Homo sapiens: one gene and its partners. The protein of the gene in region 1 purifies or fractionates together with the protein of each later gene. This does not show direct contact. Each region holds a gene or a part of one and is shown in the gene's direction. Other genes may lie near its edges.

Region 1 (3,648 bases):
CAGCGCCAGCACCGTCTTTATTGCCCTGAAGGTTTGTGTGGCATGGGCCGCTGCTGCCTCTCGCTGTCTTGGCGGGAGCCTGCTCAATCTGAGTGCCGTGGGCAGCCCCTCCCCGGCCTGTGCCAGGTGGCCCTCTGTGGTCCCTTGGCCTGCTCCCATCAGCTGAGTCTCTGGCCTCTCCCTCCTGCAGTCGGTGCTGGGTTTCGTGTTGTACGCACTGGCTGGGGCCGTGGGCTTCTTCACACATTACCTGCTGCCACAACTCCGCAAACAGCTGCCCTGGTTCTGCCTGTCACAGCCCGTGCTGAAGCCGCTGGAGTACAGCCAGTATGAAGTGCGCGGTGAGTGCCCACCCCTGATGGCCAGGCCTGGGCAGTGGCTCGGGCTGCAGCCTGGCTGGTGGGAGCTGTGGTCCTCTCGGCTCAGGAGTGCCAGCAGGGGGCACTCGCTGCCCACACTACCCTTTCTGCTCCCTCCCTGCCCTCTGTGTCCGTGTTGCCCGGCTGCGCTCTCCACCGACTCTTCTCCTCGTGCCCTGCTGTGCCCTTCCCTTGCCTGTGTTGCCCTGGTCCTGCCCTCCTTCCTGTCTGTGAGAAGACGGAAGAATTAGAACCCCAGGGCCCTGAAGGGATCTCTTGTCCAGAATTAAACACTGATCACCAGTGGACCAGAGCTGCCTGGAGCACATCTTCACTGGGCTGCATAATGGTTTTTAAAAAATCCTGGAGCCTCTATTTTAGCATCTCGATTTGAGATATGAAGATCCATGTTTCTTGAGTTTTTCTTAAACGACAGAAGATTTTGCTTCCCAGACTAGCATCCCTCTGTGGCTACAACCAGCCTGAACCGAGGGGTCTGCCCTTTAGAAGGGCCCAGCTCACGGGCTCACTGTGCACTCAGGCCCTAGCCAGCCTGCTGTACGTAGGTGTTTGCGATTTCATCATTGGCCTTGTTTTAACAGACAGCAGAGCAGAGCACCTGCCATAAAGCAAGCCTCGATGTGCTAAGTGCCATGTGGAGCCCTTGCCCTGCTGGGGCTCGCTGCTCCCATTTGAGCTGCCACAGATCAGCCCCTCCCCCCAGGGTCTCCGAGGAGTCAGGACCGCACAGCCTGCCCTCCTAGGGAAGGACTTCCTCAGGGAAGGCAGGCATGTGGAAGCCAGGTGCAGAGTCCTGGCCTCTCCACACAGGTGCCGCCCAGGTGATGTGGTTTGAGAAGCTGTATGCTGGCCTGCAGTGCGTAGAGAAGTACCTCATCTACCCCGCCGTGGTGCTCAACGCCCTCACGGTGGACGCCCACACAGTCGTCAGCCACCCGGACAAGTACTGCTTCTAGTGAGGACCACCCCACCCTCAACGATCCCATCATCCGCTTTCCCTTTTGATCCGTGGGGAAACTGAGGCCTAGAGAGGGAATGAATCATGTCTAAGGTTGTTTAGCAAGCTAAAGCAGGACCCCAGCTCCTGACACGCCATCCCAGGAAGTGGTTGCTTCTTCAAAGGCAAATGTGTTCCCACCACTCCCTTTGGAAGAGCAGAGACTAAGAGTCACGGGCCCAAAAGAGCAGGGACCAGCCCAGCAGAGCAGAGGCCAGGGGTTGCTCTCCGGCCAGAGTAGGCGAGGGATGGGACACCTATACCCACTGCCCCGGTCCCCTACCAAGCACCCGATGCCTGCCCCTTGCCCACAGCTGCCGGGCGCTGCTGATGACCGTGGCTGGGCTGAAGCTGCTGCGCTCAGCCTTCTGCTGCCCCCCACAGCAGTACCTGACGTTGGCCTTCACCGTCCTGCTCTTCCACTTTGACTACCCGCGCCTCTCCCAGGGCTTTCTGCTTGACTACTTCCTCATGTCCCTGCTTTGCAGCAAGGTGAGTTGGTGGCTGTGGCCCAGACCCCAGGCTGTCCAATGGGAGCAGAGCCAACTTCTGCCTGGGTGGGAAGAGAATTTCCTGAGGGCCTGTGGCCACCGCTCTGTATCAGCCCCGTGGGCCTTTGCAGCAGCCTCTCAAGGAAGGGGTTACTTCCACCCTCTACAGAGAGGAAGCAGGCTGAAGGAGGTTGAGGGACTTGCCTCAGGCTTCCAGAGAATTGGTGGTCAGCCAGGATTTGAACCCAGGCCTGTCTGACCCCACGACCACCTCCTCAGAAATGGTTAGGGTAATCAGGACCTGGCCTTATCCTCTGGACGCAGACCTCTGAGTTCCACGCTCTTTTGCCACCCTGGATCCAGAGCAGTCCGAGCTGAGTTTCAGAAGCCCCTAGTGCCTGGGTGTGTATAGGTGCTCTGCCGGCTGTGGCATTGCCACGGCTTGGGGGGCTCTTTGAACTAAGGAACCATGCTCCTACACTCTACTGGAGGCCAGCAGTGGTACCTGGAACCCCAGGCAGGCCTGAGCCTTTTTCTTCCTCACGTGGGCATTCTGTTCTTGTTTTCTGGCCTGGCCCAGGATGGCGGTCATCCACACTGCGTACCCTCTGAGGGCAGGGCCTGTGGCTGTTCTCAATTTTCAGTACTATAGTCTAGCTTCAGCCTCACCAGTGACCTAGTGGCGTGACCTGAGGAAGTCATTTATCTTCTCTGTCTTCACTGAACCTCAACTTTCCCATCTGTGAAAAGGGGCCAGCAATAGGAATAAGAAGCTCACAGGGTACTTGTGTGAACTAAATGGCCACCGCCCCCTTTGAGCTCAGGCAGGGGTTGCTAATGGCATCAGGCGCCTTGAGCCATGTCCAGAGCACAAGGGCTGGCAGTGACCTTGAGTTTGGCCCCCGTGGGCCAAGCCAGTGCGATGACCCAAGCCTCTGAATGGGGCCTGGCATCCGGGGGCTTCCATGAGTGACCCTGCATGTCTTTTTTCTTCTCCCTGTTGGCCCTGCCAGCTGTGGGACTTGCTGTACAAGCTGCGTTTCGTGCTGACCTACATCGCGCCCTGGCAGATCACCTGGGGCTCGGCTTTCCACGCTTTTGCCCAGCCGTTTGCCGTGCCACGTATCCAGCCTGTGTTTGGGTGGGGGTGTGCAGGGAGGGCTGTGGCCTGGGGCAGTGGGGGGTGGTGGGGGGCTGGGAGGTCCTGTTGCCCGCCGCCTCCTTGACTGTGGCTCAGACTCGGCCATGCTGTTCGTCCAGGCCCTGCTCTCGGGGCTCTTCTCCACGCCTCTCAACCCACTGCTAGGCAGTGCCGTCTTCATCATGTCCTACGCTCGGCCCCTCAAGTTCTGGGAGCGCGACTACAAGTGAGTCTCACAGGAGGCGGGAGCATGCCCAGCAGGGCAGGAAGGGAGAGGTTTGGAGCCCAGGCTGGAGGCCACCCACAGAGGGGCCCACAGCAGGTATGGGAGGGCTTGGTCACAGTGGGGACACATGAGGCGGCAGATCCAATGCAGGGAGAGCCTGCACCAGGCCAAGGCTTCAGGCTCACAGCTTGGGGATAGTGGGGTCTGGGGATGAGCTTAGCCTCCCAGCTTCTTGGCTGTGTGTCCTGTGTGAGTCCCTTCATGTACCTGAGCCTCAGTCTCCTCATCTGCCTGCATAACGGGGCTGTCCTGGATGGCGTTGACCTTGTGGCACAGGGAGAGCATGAGCAGGGTGCACCCTCTCTTCACCTTCTTGGCCAACCGCCTTGTTGCACTCTCTCTGAACAGCACTA
Region 2 (3,648 bases), on another chromosome or scaffold:
AGGGAGGTAAGGAACCTGAAAAAGAGGGAAGAAGGGGTTTTTGTTGGGGGATTGGGAGGGCAATGGGAATGAGTCTCACAAGCTTCCTGACAGGGGACCCAAGCCACACCACCTGCCCCCTCTAGCTTACAGCTAACTGGTTGTTGGGGCCTCTTCTCTATCTTCTTTTTCCAACAGCTACCAAGTTAGAAGTCTAAATGAAACCTTTCAGTGATGTCCATAATGGAAAACAGAGGCAACTTTATTCCATGAAGAATGAGACCAGGAGTGTATGTTTAGGTGAAGAGGGGTAGAGGAAGGGGAGAAAGTATCCATGGAACAGAGGAAGACCCTCGTTAGAGCATAATGGAGCCAAGTCTGAGGTCCAAACTTGATCTTGCCACTCATTAGATCTGTAACTCTGGATAGAGCAATAAATAAACACAACAGCGCTGGTCAAGTTTTCATATCCTTAAAATGGAGGTATAGATTCTTTTCCATGAGAAAGTCTGAGAGTGCAGGAGGATGATGTATGTGGCCAATAGTGCACTCTGAATAAATGCATTTCATGTGAAAACTCTTTGAACCTTGCTCCCACCTGACCCATCTGGAGTCCTGATGACTCTTCCTCCTTCCCCATGCAGGTTCCTCTGGCTCACAATATTTTTGGTCTCATTGGCCCCAATGCAGGGCTTGGCCTTGCCATAGGTAAGAAGTGCCCTCAAAGAAAACAATAAGCCCCTGCATGTTGGCTTTGGGTCTGATGCCTTTCCTCCCCCTTTTCTCATCAGAGGAGGTAGGTGCAGAGGCAGAAGGATCAGGAGGGCAGCTGGCAGGGTTGTGGAGAGATGAGCTCGTAATTCCCACCTGGAACAGGTGTTAGTCCGAGGCAGAAGACAGCAGACAAAGCAAATGGACTAAATGGAGGAGGAGAGGCGGGGTGGTACTAACTGTGGGTGGGGCTGACTGTGTCCTGTTTGCTCTGGCCACAGGCATGGTGGATTCTTCTATGATGCCCATCATGGGGCACCTGGTGGATCTACGCCACACCTCGGTGTATGGGAGTGTCTACGCCATCGCTGATGTGGCTTTTTGCATGGGCTTTGCTATAGGTATGTTGGCAGGACCTGGTGCCCCACTTTCCCCTGTCTACTCTTTACCAGCTGGAAGTGCAGCCAGGAAGCTATCCTCCTAGGGTTCTGGAGATCTTTGACGCTGAGACATCCTCTGGGTCACCCACTGCCCCTAGCATAGTGTCCTACGTGGAGGATGCTCCATATGGAGGCTCCATAGACACTTATGACTTTGATGTATCCCTCCCAGGTCCATCCACCGGTGGTGCCATTGTAAAGGCCATCGGTTTTCCCTGGCTCATGGTCATCACTGGGGTCATCAACATCGTCTATGCTCCACTCTGCTACTACCTGCGGAGCCCCCCGGCAAAGGAAGAGAAGCTTGTAAGGAGCACCGACTGTTAAAAGAGAAATTCACTTCTGTTTCTTTCCATCATCTCTCTCATTCCCTTTCATCCTGGGCTGTTATTTCCTCCCTCTATTGCTCTGTTGATACTCTCTCTGCTTTGCCATGTTTCCCAATCCCCTTTCATCTTCATATTTCTTTTGTGCACTTCCTTAATTTCCCTTCTCTAAGTAACCACTTCCCTCTTTCTGGGGCTATCAGGAAGGGTCTTCAGTAGAGAAGGGAAATGGGGGCAGAGGACCATCAAAGACATCCTGTAGTTACTGTTCTTAGCTTGCTAGTTACTAGCAAGATGTGAGTTACCAAGTTAACTCCCTCATAAGTGGGCAGAATTCCATTGGCACATCCGTTCATCCACTCATTCACTCTAGTGCAACATTATCCTTACCAGGTCACTTTTTTTTTTTTTTTTTGATGGAGTTTCACTCTTGTTGCCCAGGGTGGAGTGTAATAGTGTGATCTCGGCTCACCACAACCTCTGCCTCCCGGGTTCAAGAGATTCTCCTGCCTTGGCATCCCAAGTAGCTGGGATTACAGGCATGTACCACCATGTCTGGCTAATTTTTTGTATTTTTAGTAGAGATGGGGTTTATCCATGTTGGTCAGCAGGTCACGTTTTTAAAAGTACAAAAACCCCAGGGAAGAGATCCATACCATAGGATTTTCTTTAATAAAGCACTTTCCTCTTACTGCAGCACAAACATCCTGAGGGCCTGATGGGTTTGGGATACCGACAGAGGCTGCTCAAGGGAACAAAAGAAGACATGAAGGTGTGATAGGGAGTGGTGGTGATTCCATTTGGCTTCCTGCTGTAACTTTCACTACCACTGTTAAATTCAGTTAAAAGCAAATGAGATACTTGTCCTGACAAGGGTTGATATACTAGGTACCCCGGGAGGCTGGTGCATGTACATGCAGAGGGTCCTATGCATGTTTCTTGAGTACTTAGCAATGCCAGCCTTGGAAGAACTAGTGGGAGGACGGAATGAGGAGATTGGTAAAAAAAAGATGTGCGGTGGTTGGCCGGGCGCGGTGGCTCACGCCTGTAATCCCAGCACTTTAGGAGGCTGAGGCGGGCGCATCACGAGGTCAGGAGATCGAGACCATTCTGGCTAACATGGTGAAACCCCGTCTCTGCTAAAAATACAAAAAATTAGCCTGGCGTGGTGATGGGCGCCTGTAGTTCCAGCTACTCTGGAGGCTGAGGCAGGAGAACGGCATGAACCCGGGAGGCGGAGCTTGCAGTGAGCCGAGATTGCGCCACTGCACTCCAGCCTGGGCAACAGAGCGAGACTCCGTCTCAAAAAAAAAAAAATGATAATAATGTGCAGTGGCTTCTCTTCTTGCCTCTCTCTGCAGGCTATTCTGAGTCAGGACTGCCCCATGGAGACCCGGATGTATGCAACCCAGAAGCCCACGAAGGAATTTCCTCTGGGGGAGGACAGTGATGAGGAGCCTGACCATGAGGAGTAGCAGCAGAAGGTGCTCCTTGAATTCATGATGCCTCAGTGACCACCTCTTTCCCTGGGACCAGATCACCATGGCTGAGCCCACGGCTCAGTGGGCTTCACATACCTCTGCCTGGGAATCTTCTTTCCTCCCCTCCCATGGACACTGTCCCTGATACTCTTCTCACCTGTGTAACTTGTAGCTCTTCCTCTATGCCTTGGTGCCGCAGTGGCCCATCTTTTATGGGAAGACAGAGTGATGCACCTTCCCGCTGCTGTGAGGTTGATTAAACTTGAGCTGTGACGGGTTCTGCAAGGGGTGACTCATTGCATAGAGGTGGTAGTGAGTAATGTGCCCCTGAAACCAGTGGGGTGACTGACAAGCCTCTTTAATCTGTTGCCTGATTTTCTCTGGCATAGTCCCAACAGATCGGAAGAGTGTTACCCTCTTTTCCTCAACGTGTTCTTTCCCGGGTTTTCCCAGCCGAGTTGAGAAAATGTTCTCAGCATTGTCTTGCTGCCAAATGCCAGCTTGAAGAGTTTTGTTTTGTTTTTTTTCATTTATTTTTTTTTTTAATAAAGTGAGTGATTTTTCTGTGGCTAAATCTAGAGCTGCTAAAAGGGCTTTACCCTCAGTGAAAAGTGTCTTCTATTTTCATTATCTTTCAGAAACAGGAGCCCATTTCTCTTCTGCTGGAGTTATTGACATTCTCCTGACCTCCCCTGTGTGTTCCTACCTTTT
Region 3 (3,648 bases), on another chromosome or scaffold:
TCTTTATCCCAGCCTCATCCCCACTTTCTAAAGCTAAAAACACAAGAAATAGTCCACCCTTTCCTCCCTCTTCCCTACGCTTCACAGCCAATTAACTGCCCAAGCCTAAAAACCCCTGACAATTCTTCCTGAGACATATTTTACCTCCATGTCCATCTCCTCTGCCACAGCCCTAGTTCCAGTCCCAATCATTTCTTCTGTAGCACGTTGCTACAGAACAACGAAGTCTGCTTTTTTGAGATGGAGTCTCACTCTGTCGCCCAGGCTGGAGTGCAGTGGCGTGATCAAGGTTCACCTCAACCTCCACCTCCTTGGTTCAAGCGATTCTCCTGCCTCAGCCTCCTGAGTAGCTGGGGTTACAGGCGCCCGCCACCACACCCGGCTAATTTTTCTATTTCTTTTTTTTTTTTTTTTTCCTGAGACGGAGTCTTGCTCTGTTGCCCAAGCTGGAGTGCAGTGACTACAATCTCGGCTCACTGCAAGCTCTGCCTCCCGGGTTCACGCCATTCTCCTGCCTCAGCCTCCTAAGTAGCTGGGACTACAGGCACCCGCCACCATGCTTGGCTAATTTTTTTGTATTTTTAGTAGAGACAGGGTTTCACCTTGTTAGCCAGGATGGTCTCAATCTCCTGACCTCGTGATCCGCCCACCTCAGCCTCCCAAATTGCTGGGATTACAGGTGTGAGCCACTGCGCCCGGCCTAATTTTTCTATTTCTAGTAGAGATGAGGTTTCACCATGTTGGCCAGGCTGGTCTCGAACTCCTGACCTCAGGTGATCCACCTGCCTTGACCTCTCAAAGTGCTGGGAATAGAGTCGTGAGCCACTGCGCCCAGCCACAGCAGCTTCTTTTTGACAGGGTCTCACTCTGTCACCAAGGCTGAAGTGCAGTGGCTCAAACACAGCTCACTGCAGCTTCGATCTCCGGGGCTCAATCAGTCCTCCCAAGTAGCTGGCTCTATAGGCACACGCCACTGCGCCCAGCTAATTTTTTTTTTTTTTTTTTGAGACAGAGTCTCGCTCTGTTGCCCAGGCCGGAGTGCAGTGGCGCAATCTCGGCTCACTGCAAGCTCCGCCTCCCGGGTTCACGCCATTCTCCTGCCGCAGCCTCCCCAGTTGCTGGGACTACAGGCGCCAGTCACCACGCCCGGCTAATTTTTTTGTATTTTTTTAGTAGATACCAGGTTTCACCGTGTTAGCCAGGATGGTCTCGATCTCCTGAACTCGTGATCCGCCTGCCTCGGCCTCCCAAAGTGCTAGGATTACAGGCATGAGCCACTGCTCCCGGCTATAGCGGCCTCTTAACTGAGCTTTCTGATGTTGGTCTTCCTCGACTTTAGCTCATTTTCCACCTTTCTCTGAAATAATAATAATTTTAATAAAATGATGACAACTGGCCAGGCATGGTGGCTTACACCTGCAATCCCAGCAGTTTGGGAGGCCAAGGTGGGCGGATTGCTTGACCCCAGGAATTTGAGATCAGCCTGGGCAACATAGTGAGACCCTGTCTTTACAAAAAATACAAAATGTAGCCTGGCATGTTGGTGCACACCTGTAGTCCCAGCTACCTGGGATGCTGAGGTGGGAGGATCTCCTGAGCCCAGGAGGTGGAGGTTGCAGAAAGCCGAGATCTCACCACTGTCCTTCAGCCTGGGCAACAGAGTGAGACCCTGACTCAAAAAAATGACAGCTTTGCCACTCCTATACTCACCAACCTCCTCTTGTATGGGTGCTGCTGACTCTGCTCTTTGGTAGTGTCCCAACAGCCCTTTACTCTAGCCTTGCCCACCTTTCCAGGTTCCTGACCTACCCCTCCTATCAGCCACCCCCACTTCAGGCATATTCACCTCTCAACCATTCTCTGAACACAGCTTACCTTTTCAGGCCCAACTCCTTTGTACCAGCCATTTCTGTCAATCTGCCTGATATGATCATCCCTCTGCCCATTGCTTCATGGTTTTGTACCCCCATCAACTCAGTCCAGGCATCAGCTGGTAAAGCCTTCCCTGAATCTCCATGGCCGGGCGCGGTGGCTCACGCCTGTAATCCCAGCACTTTGGGAGGCCGAGACGGGCGGATCATGAGGTCAGGAGATCAAGACCATCCTGGCTAACATGGTGAAGCCCCGTCTCTACTAAAAATACAAAAAAAATTAGCCGGGCGTGGTGGCGGGCGCCTGTAGTCCCAGCTACTCAGGAGGATGAGGCAGGAGAATGGCATGAACCTGGGAGGCGGAGGTTGCAGTGAGCCGAGGTCTCGCCACTACACTCCAGCCTGGGTGACAGAGCGAGAGACTCTGTCTCAAAAAATAAAATTAAAAAATAAATAAATAAATTAATTAATTAATTAATTAAAAAAGCCTCCCCTGAATCTCCCAGCTCTAGGTGCCCAGAGCACTTAGACAGGCTTCTCATTTCTCTGACAAGTCCCGCACAGGTTTATTTACTTCTCTGACTCTTCTACTAAGTGGTAAGCTCCTTGGGAGCAACAACTGAGTCCCATCAGCTCTGGATCCTCAAAACCTGGCATGCAGTGCCTATGAAAATGTTCTTTAAAATGTTCTTGGAGGGGCCAGGCACGGTGGCTCACGCTTGTAATCCCAGCACTTTGGGAGGCCGAGGTAGACAGATCACTTGAGGTCAGGAGTTCGAGACCAGCCTGGCCAACATGGTGAAATCCTGTCTTTACTAAGAATACAAAAATTAGCCGGGCATGGTGGCGGGCACCTGTAATCCCAGCTACTCTGGAGGCTGAGACAGGAGAATCACTTGAACCTGGGAGGCAGAGGTTGCAGTGAGCCGAGATCACGCCACTGCACTCCAGCCTGGGCGACAAGAGCGAGCCTCTGTCTCAAAAAAAAAGTTATTGGAGGACTAGAGGTTTTTTCAAGCTCAAAATGGAGCCTAGCATCACATTTAAAGATGGAGAAACAAAGATCAGGGTGCTGGGGAGGAAGCTGACTTGGCTGGAGAAGATACACTGGAGTGCACATTGGGGTGGGCAGAGCAGGTGTGGATATTCACCCTGTGAAATGCAGGGACAGGTTCAGGGACTTGCCCAAGGACATGTGGTGAGTAAGTGGCAAGGTTAAGATTCAAACCCAGTTCTCCTACCTCCCACTGTACAGTCTTCAGAACTTTTTAAAGGATAAGAACCAAATGAGAGGATGCACTTCTATAGTGCGCACTATGTGCTGGGCACCATTGCAGTTTACAAATTTTAACTTATTTAATCCTTCTGATAATGCTATGTGGTAGGTACAACCTTTCACCCACATTTTATAGGTGAGGAAACTGAAGTACAGAGATGTTGAGTAACTTGTCCAAGGTCACAGATAAGAAATAGCAACTGGGCATGGTGGCTTATGCCTGTAATCCCAGCATTTTGGGAGGCTGAGGCGGGAGGATCACTTGAGACCAGGAATTCAAGACCAGCCTGGGCTACACAGTGAGACTCTGTGTATAGAAAAAAGAAAAATTAGCCAGATGTGGTGGCACACACCTGTAGTCCTAGCTACTCAGGAGGCTGAGGTGGGAGGATTGCTAGAGTCCAGGAGATGGAGGCTGCAGTGAGCCAAGATCACGTCACTGAATTCCAATCTGGGCAACAGAGTGAGAACCTGTCTCAAAAAAAAAGAGAAATAGTCAGG

What was found.
Region 2: the proteins of PCNX3 (region 1) and SLC18A1 purify together in Homo sapiens (co-immunoprecipitation; one large-scale study listed by IntAct). This does not show direct contact.
Region 3: the proteins of PCNX3 (region 1) and SYT11 purify together in Homo sapiens (co-immunoprecipitation; one large-scale study listed by IntAct). This does not show direct contact.

The regions. Positions count from the first base shown.
Region 1 is NC_000011.10:65,625,714-65,629,361, forward strand, and holds part of PCNX3 (pecanex-like protein 3), read left to right. Parts: coding exon 1-31; intron 32-190; coding exon 191-341; intron 342-961; coding exon of another isoform or gene 962-987; exon of another isoform or gene 988-1,184; intron 1,185-1,190; coding exon 1,191-1,335; intron 1,336-1,691; coding exon 1,692-1,869; intron 1,870-2,881; coding exon 2,882-2,990; intron 2,991-3,105; coding exon 3,106-3,235; intron 3,236-3,643; coding exon 3,644-3,648.
Region 2 is NC_000008.11:20,145,046-20,148,693, reverse strand, and holds part of SLC18A1 (chromaffin granule amine transporter), read left to right. Parts: intron 1-623; coding exon 624-687; intron 688-971; coding exon 972-1,091; intron 1,092-1,302; coding exon 1,303-1,436; intron 1,437-2,817; coding exon 2,818-2,931; 3' UTR 2,932-3,648.
Region 3 is NC_000001.11:155,876,567-155,880,214, forward strand, and holds part of SYT11 (synaptotagmin-11), read left to right. Parts: intron 1-3,648. UniProt on the Homo sapiens protein: Synaptotagmin family member involved in vesicular and membrane trafficking which does not bind Ca(2+). Inhibits clathrin-mediated and bulk endocytosis, functions to ensure precision in vesicle retrieval.